Linked DNA regions of Homo sapiens. The protein of the gene in region 1 purifies or fractionates together with the protein of each later gene. This does not show direct contact. Each region holds a gene or a part of one and is shown in the gene's direction. Other genes may lie near its edges.

Region 1 (10,784 bases):
ACAGAAACAGTGGCCGGATCAATGGGAATGGTTCCCTGGAAAAGTACAACCTGAAATCCCTGTTGTGCATGCTGTGTATGGAGGATGGGATGGGTAGAGAGTACAGCAAGCTTGTATCTGCAAAGGGAAGAAGGAATAAAAGAGCTTTGCTTTCTTAAGATGAAAAACACTCAGTCTTCTTAGAAAAAGGATGACTTCAGGAAGTGCCTTGTTGAAGGTTCGATCAATGGCCCCAGGGGAGGGAAGGAACAATTCTATCCACACTTGAAGGCTGCAGAGGTGGCTTGAGGGGCTCTTAGGTATTGAGGGCCCAGAAGATGGCCTCACCACCTCCTTCCAGTTCTGTGAAGACTGCCAGGATTGGGCAGAGCCCCTGGGATCAACCACTGGGCAGCTTGCCTTGGTTCCTGTAGGCGTCTCTAGAATCCATTCATTCTGCCCACACTGGCCTTCTCTTTGTTCCTTTGAACACACTGACTGAGTGATGCCGGGTTTATTCCTCCCTCCCTCCATCCCAGACCTTGCACATGTTGTTCCCTCTGCCCCATGAGTCCCTATCCCTCTTTCCTCCCTCATTCCTCTTCAAACCTCGCCTCTCAGAGAAACCCTACCCCATCCACCGACTGAAAGGGCAGCTCCCACGCGAACCCCATCCATTCTCTTACACTGCCTAATTTGTCTTGTTTTCCTTTTTCATATTTATTTTATGTTTTTAATGGGAATATTTCCCACATAAAATAATAAAACAAGGCCGGGCGCGGTGGCTCACGCCTGTAATCCCAGCACTTTGGGAGGCCGAGGCGGGTGGATCATGAGGTCAGGAGATCGAGACCATCCTGGCTAACAAGGTGAAACCCCGTCTCTACTAAAAATACAAAAAATTAGCCGGGCGCGGTGGCGGGCGCCTGTAGTCCCAGCTACTGGGGAGGCTGAGGCAGGAGAATGGCGTGAACCCGGGAAGCGGAGCTTGCAGTGAGCCGAGATTGCGCCACTGCAGTCCGCAGTCCGGCCTGGGCGACAGAGCGAGACTCCGTCTCAAAAAAAAAAAAAAAAAAAAAAAAAAAAAAAAAAAAAATAATAATAATAATAATAATAAAACAAACACCCATGTGTCCATCTCCCAGATGTCGTAAGTCGCCAATATTTTGCCACATTTGCTTACTTCAAATCACTCCCTTTCAATCAACTGCATTGAGGCGGAACTTACTGTTTGTTGATTTTTGGCAAATGCACACGTAACTGCTACCACAATCAAGATATAGCATATTGCTATCACCCAAGAAATGTTCTTCCTTTCTCTCACTCTGCTATATTTTTCTTCCTAATACTTAGCATTACCTGAAATCATCTCATTTATGTATTTTTTAAAATCTGTGTGCTATCCATCCCCCCCACAGGAGTGTATGTTCCATAAAGTCAGGGACGGTTCTCACTGGTGTATCCTTAGTCCTGGTACATAGTAAACTGTTTTTTGTTCTGTTTTGTTTTTGTTTTGTTTTGTTTTGTTTTAAAATAAAAGGAAATATCACTGTGACTTATAAACCTGGGAGGAGCAAAGTCCAGGAGGACCTGGATGGCCTGGGCTCCTGAGAATTCTCCGCATTGCTCATACTAGAGTAGATGTGTCAGCAGGGTCATGCCCTAAAGACACCGCATCTTCCAAGCCCTTGAGAAGCAGCAGGAAACCCCTAGCAACAGTGCAAAAGGGGCTGAACTTCTTTTATTACTCAAGACACTCAGTTGACCATTCCTATTTTGAAAATCTCCATACTTGGATACCCAGGGCAGGGCAGCAGGAATGTAAAGGGGCAGAAATGGACAGATGAGGTATGATGTGAAGGGGGCAGGTCCCATCTAAAGGAGCACTGCACTGCTCTGTGGCTAGATGTTGGGTTAAAGAAAATTATTCAATGACATTTCTTTCTTTCTTTCTTTTTTTTTTTTTTTTTGAGATGAAGTCTCGCTCTGGTGCCTGGGCTGCAGTGCAGTGGTGTGATTTCGGCTCACTGCAACCTCCGCCTCCTGGATTCAAGTGATCTGCCTCAGCCTCCCAAGTAGCTGGGATCACAGGTGCACACCACCATGTCTGACTAATTTTTGTATTTTTACTAGAGATGGGGTTTCACCATGTTGGCCAGGTTGGTCTTGAACTCGTGACCTTAGATGATCCACCCACGTTGGCCTCCCAAAGTGCTGGGGTTACAGGCATGAGCCACTGCACCTGGTCCTCAATGACACTTCTTGAAGTATGGCAAGGCAGAATTTATTGAGGACCATCATGATATGTACAGGGACCACAGTAATGGGATTTTTCAGTCACAGAGAGAAACTAGGCTCAGCCTCAAATACAGCATAGACAAATGGGAATCTATAGCCATGGAGCAAAGTCGGGGGTCAGGGATTTTTTAAAAACATTACTAAGAGGAAGCATCAGAGGAGTAAGGGGGACTCTGGCTAAATCAACCTAGCAGGATTTTTGCTGGAGACAGGCCAGGGTGATCAGACATTACCTGAGGGATGACGAAGAATGAAGAACCTGTCTGGGCATGATGGCTCATGCCTGTTATCCCAACAGTTTGGGAGGCTAAGGCAGGAGGATCACTTGAGGCCAGGATTTCAAGACCAGCCTGGGTAACACAGGAAGACCTCAACTCTTAAAAAAAAAAAAATCATCCAGGCATAGTGGCACATGCCGTAATCCCAGCTATTCAGGATGTTAAGGTAGTAGGATCCCTTGAGCCCAGGAATTTGAGGTTGCAGGGAGCTATGATCATGCCATTGTTCCAGACTGAGTGATAGGGTGAGACCTTGTCTCAAAAAAAAAAAAAAAAAAAAAAGAGAGAGAGAGAATGAGGAATCTGACCAAACTGACTTAGCAGCGTTCTTTGCAGAAACTGGATTTTACAAGGTGGTGCACTGATGGGCCTAGGAGGTTTAGGAGCCTGACTAAAGTTTGGTCAAGTAAAGAATCTTTGTCACTTGCCTGGTGGGAATGCCAGCGTTACCAGATCTTCCTGTTTTTCAAGCAAGGCAAGAAACCCACATTTTTTAAAAATGTGGAATAGCCTGATTCTTGAATTGTATAATAATTAACAAGTAATTATAAGTTAAAATGTGATGTGGGGCAAACAAAATACACCTGCAGGCTGTTTGTTAGCAACTTCTGAGTTAACATGCGAGATTGTTTCTTGTTTGTTTGGGGACTAACTCACTCAGTACAGGAATCTTTTGGTTTGACTGTTCACCCTGTCAGTAGATGTTTATTGAGTATCTACTATGTGCTAGGCATTGTTCTAGAGCCGCTGGGTATTGTGCTAGGCATTTGGCATTAATTTGTTGAAATGACTGGCATCAAAAAAGATAGAGATGAAAGATAGATGATAAAGATAGATAATAGACATAGATAAATAGATGACTGACAGATAATAGATGGTTAGATTATAGATAGATGAGACAGTTAGATAGATAGATAGAGATGTTACCCTTTAAAGATACATATTGAAATATTACAAATAATATAATGACTGGGAGTTACTTCAGAGGAATATGGGGAGTTGAATGAAGGTGTAAGTGAGGGGAGATTCACCATGGGATGAGAATTTTTGAAGCTGAATGATGTTTGGGTACGAAGATGGTGGGGTATACTCTTCTGTCTGGTTTTGAATATGACTGGAAATTTCCCACACTAAAATGCTTGTTTTAATGTCCTCATCAGTTAAAGATGCATTCTGAAGGATATGCAGGTACAATGACACCATATCGAGGGCTTAGTTTAAAATATTCAGCTAAAACGTTTCACAAGTCAGAATATAGGTGAAATACCATTTGGCAAAATGTCGATAATTGTTACAATTTTGTGACGGATAGATGGAGATTTGTTATGCTAGTCTATTGTTTTGTATATGGCTGAAATTTTCTACAATACTTTTTTTTTTAAAAGGGGACAGAGAAGTGGGAGGCCTCCTGTTTTCTAGGTACCTTTGGCAGTATGGAGTCATGCACTTAGGTGTTCATGGGAATTTTCCACAGTGTGACAGAGCTGACATCAAGGGGATGGGTACTCTTCAACAAGGGATGTCACTGTGCCGAGTGTTGCTATCGTGAGGTTAGAAGCGTGGGATCTGCTGGGGACTCCAGGTTAAGAACAGATTTCTCACTCAGTTCCTCTGCAGGGCATTCTACCTCCCAGGTATCCTATTGGATGGCAGAATAACAGCAGTCAGAGTATCTGGAACCAAATCAGCCTCCCTGGGTTTAAGTACCAGCTCTACCACTTTCTTGCTGTGGCTTTGGACATGTTATTTAACCCTGTGAGCCTCGGTTTCCTCATCTGTTAAACAGAGTTAATACTAATACCTCACAGACTCATTAGTCATTACATGTAAAGCGCTTAGCGTAGTACATGGCAGTGAAGCATTTTTTAAAAAATTATTGCTGCTTTTGTTGTTATTGTTGTTGCTGTTGAGTGATCTAAGAGCGGAAAAAACTCAGAGATAGATGGACCACAATAATTAGAGGCAGAGATGAAAAGAAGTCACACACAGAGGCTCCCACTGTCAACTGATGCGCTCACAGCAACCTGTTTGTGAGCTGCTGCAATCAATTTCTTGTATGGTGGGTGCAAAAGGAATAAAAGGAGAAGGCAACTTCCTGATCATTTCCTTTCTCTACAGAATGAAGTGGAGCTGGGGGAGCTGCTTCTGTCACTGAATTATCTCCCAAGTGCTGGCAGACTGAATGTTGATGTCATTCGAGCCAAGCAACTTCTTCAGACAGATGTGAGCCAAGGTTCAGGTACCGTGTGATTCCCCTCTTCTCTCACTTTATTAATGGGGCATCTGTGTTTGTGTGGAGAACCCAGTTTTCTTTTTCCGTATCCTGGATGAGCATTACTCATCTCAGGATGAGGCAGGTAAATGATGCCATCTTAGTAACCCTATTGGAATTGGGGAGTTGACTGAGACTGGTTGTGATAACTACTGGAAACTTAAAACCTATTTGAACCCAAGGAAGTGACTTGGCCTTTCCAAATGCTATTCCTGCAATGTAGACGCCATCCTGCAGGTGGCGATAGTGTGCATTGACTATCCATTCTAATCAATGAGCGTGGAGGACACACCCTAAGGTTTTTCGCCAGCTCATTTCATGTGTGCCATAAATTTTTATGAATTCCAACTCTGAAAAGACTTGTATTTAAAGTGTGTATATTATAGCAAAAACCATTCAAACATGACTTTTAATGGAACGGAACAGATTCCATTCCATCTGCATGTTGCTTCTTCCATGACAGCAAAGGATATTACTGTGAAAGCAGCTGTAGTCAGGGATCTGTTCAGCTCAGTGGTGGAATTATTGTCTTCTCTAAGTGCGGTAGCTAAAATAAATTACTTTTGCAATAAGGTGACAGCTAGAAGACACCTTGCATTCTCAAAAGCCACATTATAAAAACAGAGGCTTAGAAAGGGCCAGTGGAGGCAATGGTATTAAGACTGAAGAGTTTCAGACTCACCACGATGGGAGAGTCAGTATGATAAAATCATTAAGGGTTTAGGAGTCAAATGATGTGGCTTACAAATGATGTGGCTTTAGGGAAGTTACTTAACCACTATGTGCCTCAATTTCTCAATCTCAAAAACTGACATAATAACAGTATTCATCTTGATAAGTTGTTTAAACAAATATTAAATTAGATAATGTACATGAATCCCTTTGTAAACTGTAAAATGATCTAAAAATGAATTATAATTCTGCCATCTCTATTCACCTGTATATGGGCTATGGGCTCACTGAAATGATAATGGGTTTCCACAGACAGAAATCCAGGGCAGGCTCTGAGTCTGGTTCTGTGTCCACCAGCAAGATCTTTAAAAACTGATTTCTCACCTTGAGTCCTCAGTTTTCTTATCTGTAAAATGAACACAATGCTGACATATGGGAGGAGCTCAACAAATATTAGATGGCTAAAGGAAGAAGGAAGGGGATAAGCAGATGAATGGGAAAATGGATGGATAATAGATGGATGGATGGTTGAACTGTCAAATAGATGAGAAATTGGATGGATAGAAAATGGATAGATAAAAGTATGGTGAGATGATGAATGGATCAGTGAACTGACGGATGGAAAGATGGATGGATGGATAAACAGGTGGATGAATGGACGGACTATGAGATGAATGAAAAGTTGAATGGGTGGATGGATAGAAGAATGGAGGAATAAAAAGACAGATGGATGGGAGGTTGAATGGCAGAATGACTGGACGGATTAGGTTTCATGATCTCCAACATTCTATGATGCTGTGTCTAATTTTCAGACCCCTTTGTGAAAATCCAGCTGGTGCATGGACTCAAACTTGTGAAAACCAAGAAGACGTCCTTCTTAAGGGGCACAATTGATCCTTTCTACAATGAATCCTTCAGCTTCAAAGTTCCCCAAGAAGAACTGGAAAATGCCAGCCTAGTGTTTACAGGTAGGTAGCATTCCAAAACCCGATGAACTCCAGGTGAGGCACGTCAAACTTACTGTCCTAGAGCCAGAAGGCATCTAGAGAGAGTTACATTTAAGAACGTAATGTCTGGCATTCAACTACCTGGGTTTGAACCCACTTAACATCTATGAACTGGGGCAGGACTCATAGAGCCCTATAATATAATTGTTAGAAATGTGGACTTGAGCCAAATTTCCTCAGACTGCCACATAATAACTGAGGTCTTTGGCAAGTTACTTAACTCCTCTGAGCTTCAGTTTCCTCATCTACAAAATGTGAACAATAATAGTACGTGTGGCATAGGTTTGTTGTGAACAGTAAATGACTTACGACTTTGCAATATACTTGGTACATAATAAGTACTCACTATGTGTTAGTTTTGATGATGATGGTGGTGATGATTCAAGTTCCCTGCAGTCAAATAGAGAGGCATATGAAAAAACAGTGTCACCTAACTCAGAAAAAGGGATTTTTAAAGTCTTCCCAGAGGATGTAGTATTTAAGTAGAGGCTTCATGTGACACTGTCTGGTAGAATTTAGTCCATTTTTCCAGGGTGTAATCTAATGTAGTATTTCCAGGGTATATTAGTTATTTATTGCAGCATAATAAATCACCCCAAAATTTAGTAGCTTGAAACAACAAACATTTATATCTCATAGTCCCTGTGGGTCAGAAATTCAGGTATACAAAGCTTTGCTGTATAGTTCTGTGTGAATACCTCTGACAAGGCTGCAATCAAGGTATTGGCTGAGGCTGCAGCCTCATCTGAAGGCTCAACTGGGGGAGGATCTCTTTTCAAGCTCACTCACAGTTTTCAGCATGATTTAGTTCCCTGCAGGCTGTTGAACTGGGGACCTCAGTTCCTTCCTGGTTGTTGGCCAGTGACCTTCCTCAATTCCTTGCCACATGGGCTTTACCATAGAACAACTCACAACATGACTTTCATCAGAGTGGTCAAGTGAGGGAGCAAGAATGGCAAGGAAGAGTCTTTTTGTAATCTAATACTGGAAATGACATCCTATTACTTTCATTATATTCTATTCACTAGAAGCAATTCACTAGGTCCAGCCCACACTCAAGAGGAAGGGATTACACAAGGGTAGGAAGAGTGGGAGGTGGGAACCACTGGGACTCATCTTAGAAGCTACTCACCACAACAGGGATAGAGTTAGTAGGAGTAATGGTTATTCTTTCTTGTGTTCTAATTACAGTATGTACTTCCCTATATCATTGCTAACATTCACCATAACCCACCCTGTCAAGTTGATATCTTCATCCTCAACTTACAGATCTAGGGACTGAGGCTTAAAACCTAAACAACCTACACAAAGTCTCAAGCTGATAGAATCAGGACTCAAGCTCTGGTCTTGCCAGCTCCACATATCAAGGGATCTATATTTCCTCAAACACCCAGGTAGGGCTAGAACTGGGGATCGACATCATCCTTTGAGACATCCTTCTCCAGGGTAACTGGAAACTCTCCTCTGGTTAGATCTTGTCTAGAACCCTGGGCTCCAGGTCTCCCAAGAAATCAATCCATGGCTGAAAAACCCTTGCATACAAGATTTCCCCTATATAAACTTATTGCTCCTTCTCACCAAGATTGCAAATGTCTATCCTCTGAGACCCCTTCGAAGCAGGTTGGTTCTGGGTTTTCTCAAGGCCTGTCACCCATAGAGTCTGCGTTGAATCAGGGGATGCCTGCCATATGCAGATATAATGATCCCTTCTAATGCAGTCTGTGATGGCTGCTGTCCGGATGGAGTTACAAATAGACAAGGGCCTCACTCTCTCCTAGGTTTCAGGCCAAGACAGAAGACCGTCACCCCTGACTCCTTAAATGGTGGACAGGCAGGTAGTGGGGCCTATTGTATATTAAACCAAGACACAGATAAAAAATGAAGTCTCTTTTCCCAAGTCCCTGCTGAGAATAAGGGACCTCCTATTGTAAGCTTAGATGAGGAGAGGACCCCAGGGGAAACTGAGAGCCCCCATGGAAAGCCCTGACACTTCATATTTTACTTAACATTTTATGATAAATGTAGCACACACGTGTTATAATGAGTGACACCATGAAAAGATGTGTAAGGACAGAGAATCAGAGGAGAACAGGGGTTATGTGCCTGTGCTGGGGAGCTGATGTCTGGGTCCTGGCTTTACCACTCACCTACTTTGGTGACCCTGGGCAAGATCTGCGTGCTTAGGTTTTCTCAGCTGTAAAATGGGGATAACAATACAGGACACTTCACAGGATTGTTATTTGCATTCAGTGAGATCAATAAACACACGGTGCTGAGCACTGTGCCACCCATAGTAAGCACTCTAGAACTGTTAACTGTTATTAAAGGGAAAGTTTAGTGTTTTCCTTTTTTCTCCCACACACATGGGGCAGCCACCACCTTCTCACTCCCTCATGCAGTTTTGTTTATTTCAGAGTGTTTTCTTGCTGTGTAATCCTTCTCCCCGCTTTTTTTTTTTTGAGACAATCTCATTCTGATGCCCAGCTGGAGTGCCATGGCATGATCTCGGCTCACTGCAAGCTCTACCTCCCAGGCTCAAGCAATTCTCGTGCCTCAGCCTCCTCAGTACTTGGGATTATAGGTGCACGCCACCATGCCTGGATAATTTTTTGTATTTTTTGTAGAGACGGGGTTTTACCATGTTGGCCAGGCCAGTCTCAAACTCCTGACCTCAAGCAATCTGCCCACCTCGGCCTCCCAAAGTGCTGGGATTACAGGCATGAGCCACCACGCCTGGCCTAATGTCTTCCTTTAATGCCTTCCCCTTTCCAGTTCCTTCTCCCTGAAGTCATGCCTTTAATGTTCTGCTGTGTAGCATTCCACACTTTTTTCCTTGTTCACACAAACAATATCCACATACAGAGGGTTCTGTTCCTTTAAAACATTATTCATGAATTCAGCAAGTGTGTATTAAACACCTTCTGTGCCAGGCAGTGCTTCCAAGTTCTGGGAATAGAGCAGTGAACAAAACAGACCTAATCCCTGCCCTGGCGGAGCTTACCAGGACATTCCATGGATACCACACTGACACTTGCTTTGGTTTAATTAACAATGAATGTGTTCGTTGCCTTCAGATCAATATGAATACAAATGGATTTAACTTTTCATTTTTAATAACTGCATTAGATACTGTTGCATGATGTAGTATGATAAAAGCTGAGGTTATTTATTCTGGGGGTGGGGGGGTATGACAGAACTTCAGGGATTGTGATTAGAACTCCAGAAAAATACATGGAAGTATGGAAAATTTTGCATATAGTTGCAGAGGTTTTTTCGAATTCCTTGAATTCCATATGGTTACCTCATAAGGCTCAAACTACAAGGGTAGCCACACCACACCCCCTCTCCATACATCTTTTATTCAACCCACGGCACTTCAGGTGGCAACTGTCAGCTGGGGCAGTGGTCAGCTGATGCTGTCAGGGAAGTCCTGTACTCTCCATTCACAGAAGACCCGCTTCTCTCCTGTAAGTTTTGGGGCCCTGACTTGGAAGTTCAGGCTCCTCTGGTTAAAAGCTCGTTGAAAATATTCTTTCTGGAGAAGGAAGCATTGCCTGCCTGCCCCCTTAAATCAGGGATTCTCAACCCTGGCTGTACCTTAGAATTACCTGAGAGCTTTAAAATGCTACCAATGGCTGCACTGCATTCCGCAGAGACTCTAAAGCAACTGGACTAGGCTGAGGCACTGAGCATCTATAAGTAGCTATTTTTTAAAAACACCCCAGATATTTCTATTGCTCATTCATTGTTCCGAACCACAGCTGTGAGTGGAAATCCCAGCTAGGGTGGCAATTTACATAAAGGGTACTGGCTGGAATAATATGAGAAAGGTGTCTTAAGCCAGTATGTATCTCAGCAAAGCTACAGTTCTCCTGAACTCAGATTCATAAGGTTCTAACCTGCTTTATTTGTCCACTGAGAGAAAGAGCTGTCACCTCTAGGCCGAGGAACCAAAGCCCAGCCTATTAGCATGTTTCCAAACACTTCATAACAAAAGTAAGGTTGGTCTGCAATTTAGCATTTGCCGTGAATCCCTGGTAAAAGCCTGTAATTAGCTGGTAAGCTGGACTTTCTGAACACTTGTTTTCCTGTGTGGGAGGAGGATTTGTCTGCAATTTTCTATCAGGTGGTTTCTGCAGCTGAAGTTTAAAAATAAAAAATGAAAAGAGGGGTAAAATTGCTTTTCACCGCCCAAGATAGCAACACACAGCCCAGAGGGCTTCCAGGAAATTCAGGAAGGTTTACTGAACCAAAGTAAAGTGGAGCTGGCCACTGAGG
Region 2 (10,784 bases), on another chromosome or scaffold:
ACCAGTGGCAGATGTTGCACACATCCTGCTATGGGGCAGTGGCTGACGCCACACTCCCCGACCTCCTGAGGTGGGGCCCCCTTCATACTCTAACTTCTGCCTGCCATTCATGGGGCATTTGTCACACTGTTGGGGCTTCCACGTTTAGTTTTCTCTCCCCATAAGCTAGCAATTCCTTGAGAGAGGACCCCACGTTACTTGCCTTTATCCCCGCACAGAGCACTTCACAGGCTGTGCAAGGTAATGCTCCACTGAGGACACATTCTCGCCTATGGGAACTCTGGAGGCAGGGCTTTGTGGAGGGGCTGCCACAGGCTTATGTTGCCTCCTAGGATTTCCCATGGGCCAAGAGGGAAAATGGGGGTCGCTGGGGTGGCCATCCCTGGTGGCCCCTCCTCATGCATCCTGGAGAGCTGTGGGCCTCCTCTCCACAGGCTTTGTGGATCTTCTTCAGAGCCAGTGAGTCAGCCTTGCTGTGGTGGCCCACAAGGAGTGGAGATGACAGAGGGCCTTGGGGACAGGGCAAAAGCTCATGTGATAGGGATGCTGTCTCTGCAACCACATGGATTTTAATAGTTACCCATGGCTGGCTTCAGCTTTTTTTGTGAATGGCAGCCAAAAAGTGTGGTGAAAATGGAGGGATAGTTCAGTGGAGACAGAGGGGAGACTGTTGAATTTGTGGAGTTTTTAGTTCTTCCTAAACAGAGAGCAACAGACAAGAGTTACAGACAAATTAATTCTTTTCGTTAATTTACCCTCAACTACTGGCCAAGAAGGGGTGTAACTCAGAATGTTTTCTTCTTTTGTGCCCTGAGTAGCAGACCCAGAGTCTGGAGACCCAGATTCTAGGCCTGGCTTGGCCAACGACAAGCAGGGTGACCTTGGGTTAAAAAAAAAAAAAGGCATCATTCTCTGAGTCTCACTCCCTCTTCTCAAAAAGATGGCAATTCCTCCCCCGCTGGTTTTCCATAGTTGAGGTAGCAAGCCAATGTGTTGGGGTAGCTGAAAACGCCCTGTGCATACTGAGGCTTATGTTCCATGGGGGGCCAGGGGCCAGGACAGTGATGGGAGGAGACAAGGCGGATACAGAGGAGCAGATTGTCATCTCCAGCTGGGAGGTGATGGCCATGCCTGCACCCCTCTGGCCAGCAGAGGGTGGTCAGTAGGAAACTGGGAGGCCATTAGGGCAACCTTCTATTGGCTCAGACTCAGAATGCAGTAGAACTTGTGCCCTGTAGTGTTCATGGACAGGAGTGAGAGGAGGACAGGACTGAGGGGATGTGGCTGTCAAGGCCTTTCTAGGGGCGATGCTGTCTCTCCCTCAGCATAGGGAGTGGGCCCTTCCACCTCTGGCCTCTCTCCCCCAGGGCTGTGTCTGGCTGTCCCTGATAAAACTGTGAGATGGTGTGCAGTGTCGGAGCATGAGGCCACTAAGTGCCAGAGTTTCCGCGACCATATGAAAAGCGTCATTCCATCCGATGGTCCCAGTGTTGCTTGTGTGAAGAAAGCCTCCTACCTTGATTGCATCAGGGCCATTGCGGTAAGTCGCTGCTGCCTAAAAGAGAGTGGAAGAAAGCCATACTTTCTCTGTTTCCAGTCACTTTGGAACAATTCTTTACTCACAGGTAGGAGGCTGATATATGGGGCAGTCAACCTTGACTTACTAAAATCACTTCAAAAGTGGAAATGGGGAGGTTTTCTTTAATGTGTCTGGAAAGCAAAAGTCAAAAAGCACATTAACTTTTGCTTTCCAGACACAGTAGACGCAAGGGTGACTGTTTTGAGACCCTAGGTTCTCTGAACTTGGCGAAAATATAAGAATGCCTGCTATCAGGCTGGGCGCGGTGGCTCATGCCTGAAATCCTAGCACTTTGGGAGGCTGAGGCAGGTGGATCACCTGAGGTCAGGAGTTCGAGACCAGCCTGGCCAACATGGCGAAACCCCATCTCTACTAAAAAATATAAAAATTAGCTGGGCATGGTGGTGCATGCCTGTAATCCCAGCTACTTGGGAGGCTGAGGCAGGAGAATCACTTGAACCGGGGAGGCAGAGGTTGCAGTGAGCCAAGATCCTGCCACTGCACTCCAGCCTAGGTGACAGAGTGAGGCTCCATCTCAAAATAAATAAATAAATAAGAATGCCCACTATCAAAATTATTATATAACCTTCTTTGGCAGCTTTTGATACACAACTGGGAAGATGAGTGATGCATGCAGGGGGAAGAGTAAAGTGTCCTGATTGCAGGTGACAGCTGATCTTTTTGTTCTTAGGTCTACAAAAATGCTCTTCATTCTTTCAACGTTGCCCCTGCCCATCTGTACATGTCAGATCCTGTGCTGGGCAATGGGGCTGCAGTGGTGAATTAAACACATTGGTCCTTACCCTCAGGGAGCTCATGGGCTAGTCAGGAGAGCAGAAAAACACACGAATAAGTAAACTACTAATTCCAAAATGTGGGGATGTACAATGGAGGGAAAAAGGAGAGTGTTCTGACAGGGACTCACAGAAAAACCTGCTTTGTCCTGGGTGGTCAGAGACCATCTCTCTGAGAGAGATGTAATGAAGGACTGAGCCTGGGTGGGCTCCAGTGTAAAATACACCAGGCAGCAAACAAGAGCATATGCAAAGGGCCTGAGGCAGAGCAGAGTGGGCTTATTTAAGTTGCTAGTGGGAGGCCAGGGTGATGGGAGCTGTCAAAGATAAGCACAGCCAGATATTAGTTTAGGCAGTGACAATAGGTTTCATTCAGTAACTGCTGACAGTGGGGGAAAGAGCTAGGCTCCATTCTGATTTGTGCAGTGGTGATGTGAGCATTTTAAAGGGAGAATGAGGGAGGGGAGAACGCAGGGCTCTGTAGAGTCAGAGAAGTAAAAAGGTAGAAAGGGCTGGTCAGTGTAAATGTGAGGAGGCCAGCTGTGTCTGATAGCTGGCAGTTCTCTCGATTAGGACTCTATTCTCCCGCAGAGACTGCGAGACAGACACTCTATCCATCCTGATGATTGTGTTGCAAAGGAATGGCTCTCAGTCCTTGAGAGAGATGCTTGTGAGTTTCAAGAGATACATATTCACAGTTTTAAGTCCTTTTTAGTAAATTCTCTTGGAAAGGGAGGTCAGGGGCCTATCATCAGTTGTGTGTTGAGTAGAAGAAACAGGTACATTTTCCTGGCAGCACTGAGTTTTCTCAGGCAAGCACTTTAAGGGGAACCGGGCCATCCTAGGGACACAGATTTGTTCTGCTAGGAGCCATGCCAGAGTCTGGTCAGGTCTCTTAGTGCAGAGGTTTGGACAGATGTGTCAAGTGTGGGAAATTCTACAGTTCTCAGCACAAAGCAAGCAGTAGGTTAGCCGAAGGGAAAAGGTGGAAGAAACATCCAGATGCAGCCTGGCTTCCCTCAATCCCCGCGCTGGGGTTTTCCGTGTCTTTCTGCTGGCTTCCCCTTGGCTTCCCTCCAGCCTTCTCTCTGTAGCTTTCCCTCTTCTGGGTTTGGTTATTTTGACTTGTGAGAGCTTGCTTGATTATAATCCTGTCCCTCCCAGCTGGCGCAGGTTCCCCTGGGAACCCTGCAGCTCTAGGGCTGGACGCTGTGTTTTAGGCCTTAGCTCTTTGGCTCCCTGAGCCCCCGAGGCACCAGTGATTTCTTGGTGTCTTGGCAAAGAAAGACCAGGTTCCTGACCACTCTCCCAACCCCACTGCAATGGGCAAAGCTCTCGTTTGTTTGCTTCATTTTTTAAAAAATATATATATATTTTATTATACTTTAAGTTCTAGGGTACAAGTGCACAACATGCAGGTTTGTTACATATGTACACATGTGCCATGTTGGTGTGCTGCACCCTGTTTGCTTCATTTTTATTCAACAATGTGAGGACTGGGGAAGGGAAGGTGTTTGCAGATTAAACAAAACCACGAAGTGTGTTTCATATATAAGGTCTAGTTGTTGTGGAACAGAAAGGCCCATGATGTCTGTTAATTTTGTTTTGTATTGTGGTATATTAAAAATATGTTTTACAACCCAAATATCCATTGATGAGTGAATAGATAAATAAAATGTGGTAAACACAAATGATGAAATATTTTTAGCCTTAAAAATAAATGAAACTCTGATATATGCTACACTGAGATGAACCTTGAAAACATAAGTGAAGCAAGCTAGATACAAAAGGACAAATATTGTAAGATTCCACTTTTTTTTTTTTTTTTTTTTTGAGACGGAGTTTCGCTCTGTCGCCCAGGCTGGAGTGCAGTGGCGCGATCTCGACTCACTGCAAGCTCCGCCTCCCGGGTTCACGCCATTCTCCTGCCTCAGCCTCCCGTGTAGCTGGGACTACAGGCGCGCGCCACCATGCCCGGCTAATTTTTGTATTTTTAGTAGAGACGGGGTTTCACCGTGTTAGCCAGTATGGTCTCGATCTCCTGACCTCGTGATCCGCCCGTCTCGGCCTCCCAAAGTTCCACTTTTATGAAGTATCTAGAATAGTCAAATTTATAGAAACAGAAAGTAGCATAATGACTACCAGGGGCTGGAGTGGGGGAGAAATAGGAGGTAATTGTTTAATGTGTAAAGAGTTTCAGTTTCTGGAGATGGATAGATGTGATGGCTATAAAACAACGTGAATGCATGTACTTAATGCCACTAAAATGTACACTTGAAAATGGTTAAAATTGGCTGGGTGCGGTGGCTCACGCCTGTAATCCCAGCACTTTGGGAGGCCGAGGCGGGTGGATCACCTGAGGTCAGGAGTTTGAGACCAGCCTGGCCAACATGGTGAAACCCCATCTCTACTAAAAAAAATACAAAAATTAGCCGGGTGTGATGGCAGGCGCCTTAATCCCAGCTACTTGGGAGGCAGAGGCAGGAGAATCGTTTGAACCCTGGAGGCAGAGGTTACAGTGAGCCGAGATTGAGCCATTGCACTCAAGCCTGAGGGACAAGAGCGAGACTGCTGATATAGTTTGTCTTACAACATATTTTATTTCATTTAGAAATACTATTGTCTTATTACTTGATTGTAACACAACAAAGTTCATGGAACTATAGCTTTTGCTTTGTAATTTTTTTTTTTTTTTTTGAGAGTCTTGCTCTGTCACCTAGGCTAGAGTGCAGTGGTACAATCTCGGCTCACTGCAACCTCTGCATCCCAGGTTCAAGCGATTCTCCTGCCTCAGCTTCCCAAGTGGCTGGTATTACAGGCATGTGCCACCAAGCCCAGCTAATTTTTGTTTGTTTGTTTTGGTAGAGACAGTGTTTCACCATATTGGCTAGGCTGGTCTCGAACTCCTAACCTCAGGTGATCCACTTGCCTAGGCTTCCCAAAGTGCTGGAAGTACAAGGTATGAGCCACTATACCTGGCCTGCTTTGTAATTTGATCAATAAGAAATCTTCATAGAGAACTGGCAAGGGCTTCTGGAAAAATCATTTTGATTAAAGACATTTAAAACAAAAAAGGAGTAAAACTATGTGTTTAAGTGTCTAAATAAAAGATGGTTGGGCTCACTTTAAGGATTTACATAAAAAGAAAATAAATTATAGATCTAGTAAGAAGGCAGCTATAATATTTCAAGGGACCTGTTGATGTAAAGATGAGGGCTTACAGAAGCACAAAGTCAAAAAGGAACATAACCTGAAGTAACAGTGTAATGATAAGAAATAAACCCGGAATGTCTGCACTGAAATCCCAGCTCCATGACTTACTGGCTATGTGGCCCAGGGAAGTGACTTAACCTTTCTGTGCCTCATATTTCTCACTTGTAAAATGGAGCTGAGAGAGAAAGAGAGATGAGCTGCCCATGTGTTGGAGTAGACAATTATACCAGAGATGAGCAAAAATGGAAATAATAATCAAGCTTTTGATCATTCAGTACATAGTATCACCAAGAAGCTAAACCCAGAGAAAGTGCCCAATCCCTCAGCAAAAGGGTCATGCAGTTTTATGGACCCAGGACAGGAAGGAAGAGCATTGAGTACTGAGTCAGAGTGAAGACGAATGTTTTCAAGGTTCCCATCTTCCCCCAGAAAAAAAATCTCCACAGAAGCACCTGAGGAAGACCTCAAAGGAAGTCTCAAAATAAAGAGGGCTCTGAGCAAAGGTCATGGGCTAGGAATGAAAACAGGTGTAAGAAGAGCGTGGCCAGCCCAAGAGAGCTGTGTCCTTGACAGCAGAGTCCCCTCCAGAGACTGCATTGCACTGGCTGTGCTCTGAGTCTGGGGTGGCGAGGGCGGCTTTCTCCCACGGAGCCTGCCAGGTTAAGCCTTCGTAATTGCCTACGGTAAAGTCACGTAGGATTTTTGGCCAGGAGCTGGGCACCTCACCGGGGAAAAGAGAAACACAATCCATCACTCCCTCTATGCAGAAGGAATAGGAATGTGGTGGCTAAGTGCCCTTGCGAGGGAGACAGAGTCAACTGAAGCCAGCAGGGCTGTGCGTGGTCTAGTCAAGTTCTGGCCCTGGGTCCGTGGAGTCCTGGTAGCCACTCTCTACTTGTGTGGGTTGAGGTGGGCCTTCCTTGGAAGTCAAGGCTTCATCCAGGACTGGCCTGTTCTCTTTCAGGCAAACGAAGCGGATGCTGTGACACTGGATGCAGGTTTGGTGTATGATGCTTACCTGGCTCCCAATAACCTGAAGCCTGTGGTGGCAGAGTTCTATGGGTCAAAAGAGGGTAAGTTCTCCCTGGGACCCCAGGAAGGAGTTGTCATCCTTATTCTATATGCTGAGTGCTGTGTTTTACAGGCAGGTTTTGGATATCAGATATAATGAACATTCATCTTTGGAGAGTGAGTAGAGAATGAGGGGCCCTGTCAGCTGCCACAGCCACACATCAAGGCCTCTGGGGGCTTTGGGCTGGCTGAGGACTGGTGCTCCTAAAACTGAGCCCTGGGCCAGGGGCATATGCTTATCAGAGAAACACAGCAGGCTGTGTGCAGCTTGACCTGAAGGCTACTGCGGTCTACTGATATGTCTAGGGTCCCTGGAGGCCTCTGGAGCCATAGGTACCACTCACACAGGAGGGGTCACTCTGGAGCACACACTCAGAGGCCAGCAGCCCTGCAAGTCTTCTGAGATCAACCTGACTGTCTCTGGGCCTGTGCCAGGGGACATGAAATACTTTGATGGGCCTCTGTTACCACAGCTCCAGTTTCCTGGTGGCTGAGGTTGGTAGGTGTAGGCAGACACGCTGCAGGGCCAGGGGAGGCAAAGCATTCAGGACACATGTGCGTGTGGCCTTCTTGCCCCTGTTTGCCTGGAGGGGTAATATTATAAATATTCCTTCTATGGTCTTCTCTCTCCCCTGCAACCCTAGGAAGGTTTTCCTGATTCCCCACTCCTTATCGCCCAGTCCAGTAAAAGCATGGCCTCTCCGCTCCCCTCCCTCCTCAAGAGTCCGGTGGTGATGAGCCATGTTTCCCTGCACCAGGCTGAGGGCCTTCCATTCACACTGTGCCTTTGCAGATCCACAGACTTTCTATTATGCTGTTGCTGTGGTGAAGAAGGATAGTGGCTTCCAGATGAACCAGCTTCGAGGCAAGAAGTCCTGCCACACGGGTCTAGGCAGGTCCGCTGGGTGGAACATCCCCATAGGCTTACTTTACTGTGACTTACCTGAGCCACGTAAACCTCTTGAGAAAGGTAAGCTGGCAGGAGTCTGGGTGCCCTCGAGCAGCTGCCTCTGCTCCAGATGCCCACACAGGCTGCACTAGACAGTCACCATCAGCAGACATGTGGGATGAACTCAGGTGGGGGAAAGAGGTTAACAGACTTTAAACTGGCAGGTCTGCTGCACCAGCAGCACTTGGGAGGTGGAGCTGAGCTTTTTTCTGCTCTGAGCTTCCAAAACCCCAGCAGAGGCTGTTCTGATGAGTGAGGAAAGGGCGCAAGGCTCGGCAGAGGGTTTCAGTCTAGGCGATGGTGGTTCTCTTGTCCACTTCTCTGGATTTCTTTCCTGGAGGTTTCTCTGGAGCCCTGCACCTCTCTTAAGCAGTTCTCATGTCTGGGGCATGGATCCCAGAGGGGACCTCTCTCTGAGCTGTTCCAGCCTCTGACAAAGCAGGGAGAAGGTGCTCTGAGAAAGACCCGAGATAGGCCTTGGTTAGTGGGAAGCATAGGCCTGTTTCCTCTGATGGATGGTGGCCAGACAGAGGTCAACTTGTTCCTATTAGAAATCCTTGATCTTGATGAGTTAGCATAAGGGCAAGCTGGGGCTGCATGTGCTGGTTTGGTTTTAGTCCCCTCTGTTCCCTGATGGGCCTGGGTGGGGTGATGCCATTGGCTGTGGCCAGCCTCACTCATGCTCTGTTGTCCATTTCTCTGTGCTGAGCAGCAGTGGCCAATTTCTTCTCGGGCAGCTGTGCCCCTTGTGCGGATGGGACGGACTTCCCCCAGCTGTGTCAACTGTGTCCAGGGTGTGGCTGCTCCACCCTTAACCAATACTTCGGCTACTCGGGAGCCTTCAAGTGAGTGAGATGTCTGCTGCTCCATGGTGGCCAAAGTGCCAAATGTCCTCAGGGTGAGAGTTCTTTGCTGGTCCAAAGCCGAGCCCTGCCTGCCTACAGGGGCATCGAGGTGGCCTAATCCCCTCCCAGTGAGTCAGAAGCACAACCTGGGACTCCTAGGCCAAGCCAGCCCATGTTCCCTTTCATCTGACCCTGACAAGTAGGTCCTTTTCCTGGGGACCCTTCCTTTCTCCCCAGAGCCCTCAAGCCTGGTCAGTGTCTCCTCTCGGTGGATCGGGCAGAGCCTGAAAGGACAATCATGCCTCTAGTGTCTGGGCCCACTGTCCAGGGACTGGCCCTCTTCCCTCAATCTCAGCAGTGTTACCTGCTCAGCACACTGCCTGTCTCCTGCCCCCATCACCGTCTCTATCTGGGAAGCTGATTTCTTGCTTTCTCTTTTTACCTTGATTATATCCTAAAGTTTTACAACCAGCCAAAGGCACATTTTCACCCTCAGGAGACACTATACCATTATCTTCTATTCCAGAAGTTTAAAAGCTCTTTTCACATGAAAATATCTTCAGTTGCATTTTGCTTCTTTGGGTTATGAGGGCTTTTTATCTCGTGTGAGCTCATTCCCCCATCTCAGCACTACGCTGGAGGTCTGCACACCATGGTGTTGCTTCAGCTACGGGGCTGCACCAGGCTCTATCCTAGTGTGAGTGCTGGACAGTGTGATCAGACTCTCCAGGTGCAGGAGAAGGGCCTGCCCTGCAGGAGCCCTGCTGATGTGTTTCTTTGACCCAGGTGTCTGAAGGATGGTGCTGGGGATGTGGCCTTTGTCAAGCACTCGACTATATTTGGTAAGAATGGGACAAGAATCCACCAGGGCCACTCCAAGTAGTGGGTGTTCTTTTTCTGTGTTCCCTTTTTCATGCTCAGTAATTGGAAATGAGCATACTGTATTTCTCCTTTATCATTGCCTGGGTTTCCACCTGTGCAGAGTTAGGTACCTACGGGGTCCCCATCTGGATTCCTGGGCCTCTTTCCATCATTCAATCTCTCCACACGGTGCCTCTGCCTCTGGGGTAGTGTTGCCATAACCAAAGACTGGGGGTTGGTGCTGCTAAGATCAGGCTCATGGTGGAATGAGGAGCAATCACTGCTACATGGGCATCAGAAGCCTTTACCTGGCTGTGGGCTCTTGAGCGAGTCATTCTCCCGCATGTTCTCTGGCCTTCAGTGCTCACTCCAGACCTCTCAGCTCATACTTTCTATGATCAATTGAATTTCAAGGATGGGCACCACAGCCCATGGCTCTCCTGTGTTAAGCTCACCTGGGCTTTCCCTCCCCAGAGAACTTGGCAAACAAGGCTGACAGGGACCAGTATGAGCTGCTTTGCCTGGACAACACCCGGAAGCCGGTAGATGAATACAAGGACTGCCACTTGGCCCAGGTCCCTTCTCATACCGTCGTGGCCCGAAGTATGGGCGGCAAGGAGGACTTGATCTGGGAGCTTCTCAACCAGGCCCAGGTATCCCCACCTGCCATCCTCCCCTCCAGCTTAGTGCTCCCTGCTTGGATTTGGGGGTTTTCCTCCTGGCCATCTTGTCACTCTGGAAGTCTGTGTGTTCAGGATACAGTGGGAGCCATGCCACATGTCACTAAGTTCTCTAAAAGCTGGGACTCCCCACAGAGCAGCAGGGAGCCTGCTGTGGTGCTACCGTCTGCCGCCCTTGCCTTTCTGGCTGGTGACACCTGAAGAGGCTCTGTATTGCTCTGTTGCATTCCTTTCTACCTAAACTTCAAGGCCCAAAGCTAAACCCCTCCCCAAGGAGGCTTTCCATGACCCTCCCAGAAGGAAATGGTCTCTCTCCCCATGCCCCTCAGCCCGGCTGTGAGGGGGCTGCCTGCACAGCGGCTTTACTTCCCAAGAGCTGTGTGATTTGGGCTCAGCCAGCTTCCTCTTGCCGAGCCGTCCCATCTGTCCACTGAGAGTTTGACTGGTAACCACACAGGGCAGCCTCTGGATTAGCCACGTTTCTTGTTCTCACCGATGTCTCAACCCGTTCCGGGAGACAGGCACAGAAGCAGGTTCAGGCAAATCGCGGACCCACGAGGGCTACAGGCAGAGGAAGTGCTGGGTGAGCAGGAGCAGGTCCGACTGCCCTCTCTCCTGGCATCTTGAACTTTTTCATGTTGTTTCCTGCAGAGATTTCTTTTCTCTTCAGTCCCATTTCTCAGCCTCCTTTCTTCTGTGTTGCCATCCACTATTCTGTTTTTCTATGAACAGGAACATTTTGGCAAAGACAAATCAAAAGAATTCCAACTATTCAGCTCTCCTCATGGGAAG

The links.
Region 2: the proteins of SYT17 (region 1) and TF purify together in Homo sapiens (affinity purification with mass spectrometry; 3 studies listed by BioGRID and IntAct, with this or other methods). This does not show direct contact.

The regions. Positions count from the first base shown.
Region 1 is NC_000016.10:19,218,372-19,229,155, forward strand, and holds part of SYT17 (synaptotagmin-17), read left to right. Parts: intron 1-4,673; coding exon 4,674-4,794; intron 4,795-6,311; coding exon 6,312-6,467; intron 6,468-10,784. UniProt on the Homo sapiens protein: Plays a role in dendrite formation by melanocytes.
Region 2 is NC_000003.12:133,747,045-133,757,828, forward strand, and holds part of TF (serotransferrin isoform 1 precursor), read left to right. Parts: intron 1-1,367; coding exon 1,368-1,540; intron 1,541-6,550; coding exon 6,551-6,659; intron 6,660-7,450; coding exon 7,451-7,627; intron 7,628-8,318; coding exon 8,319-8,451; intron 8,452-9,237; coding exon 9,238-9,293; intron 9,294-9,786; coding exon 9,787-9,965; intron 9,966-10,724; coding exon 10,725-10,784. UniProt on the Homo sapiens protein: Transferrins are iron binding transport proteins which can bind two Fe(3+) ions in association with the binding of an anion, usually bicarbonate.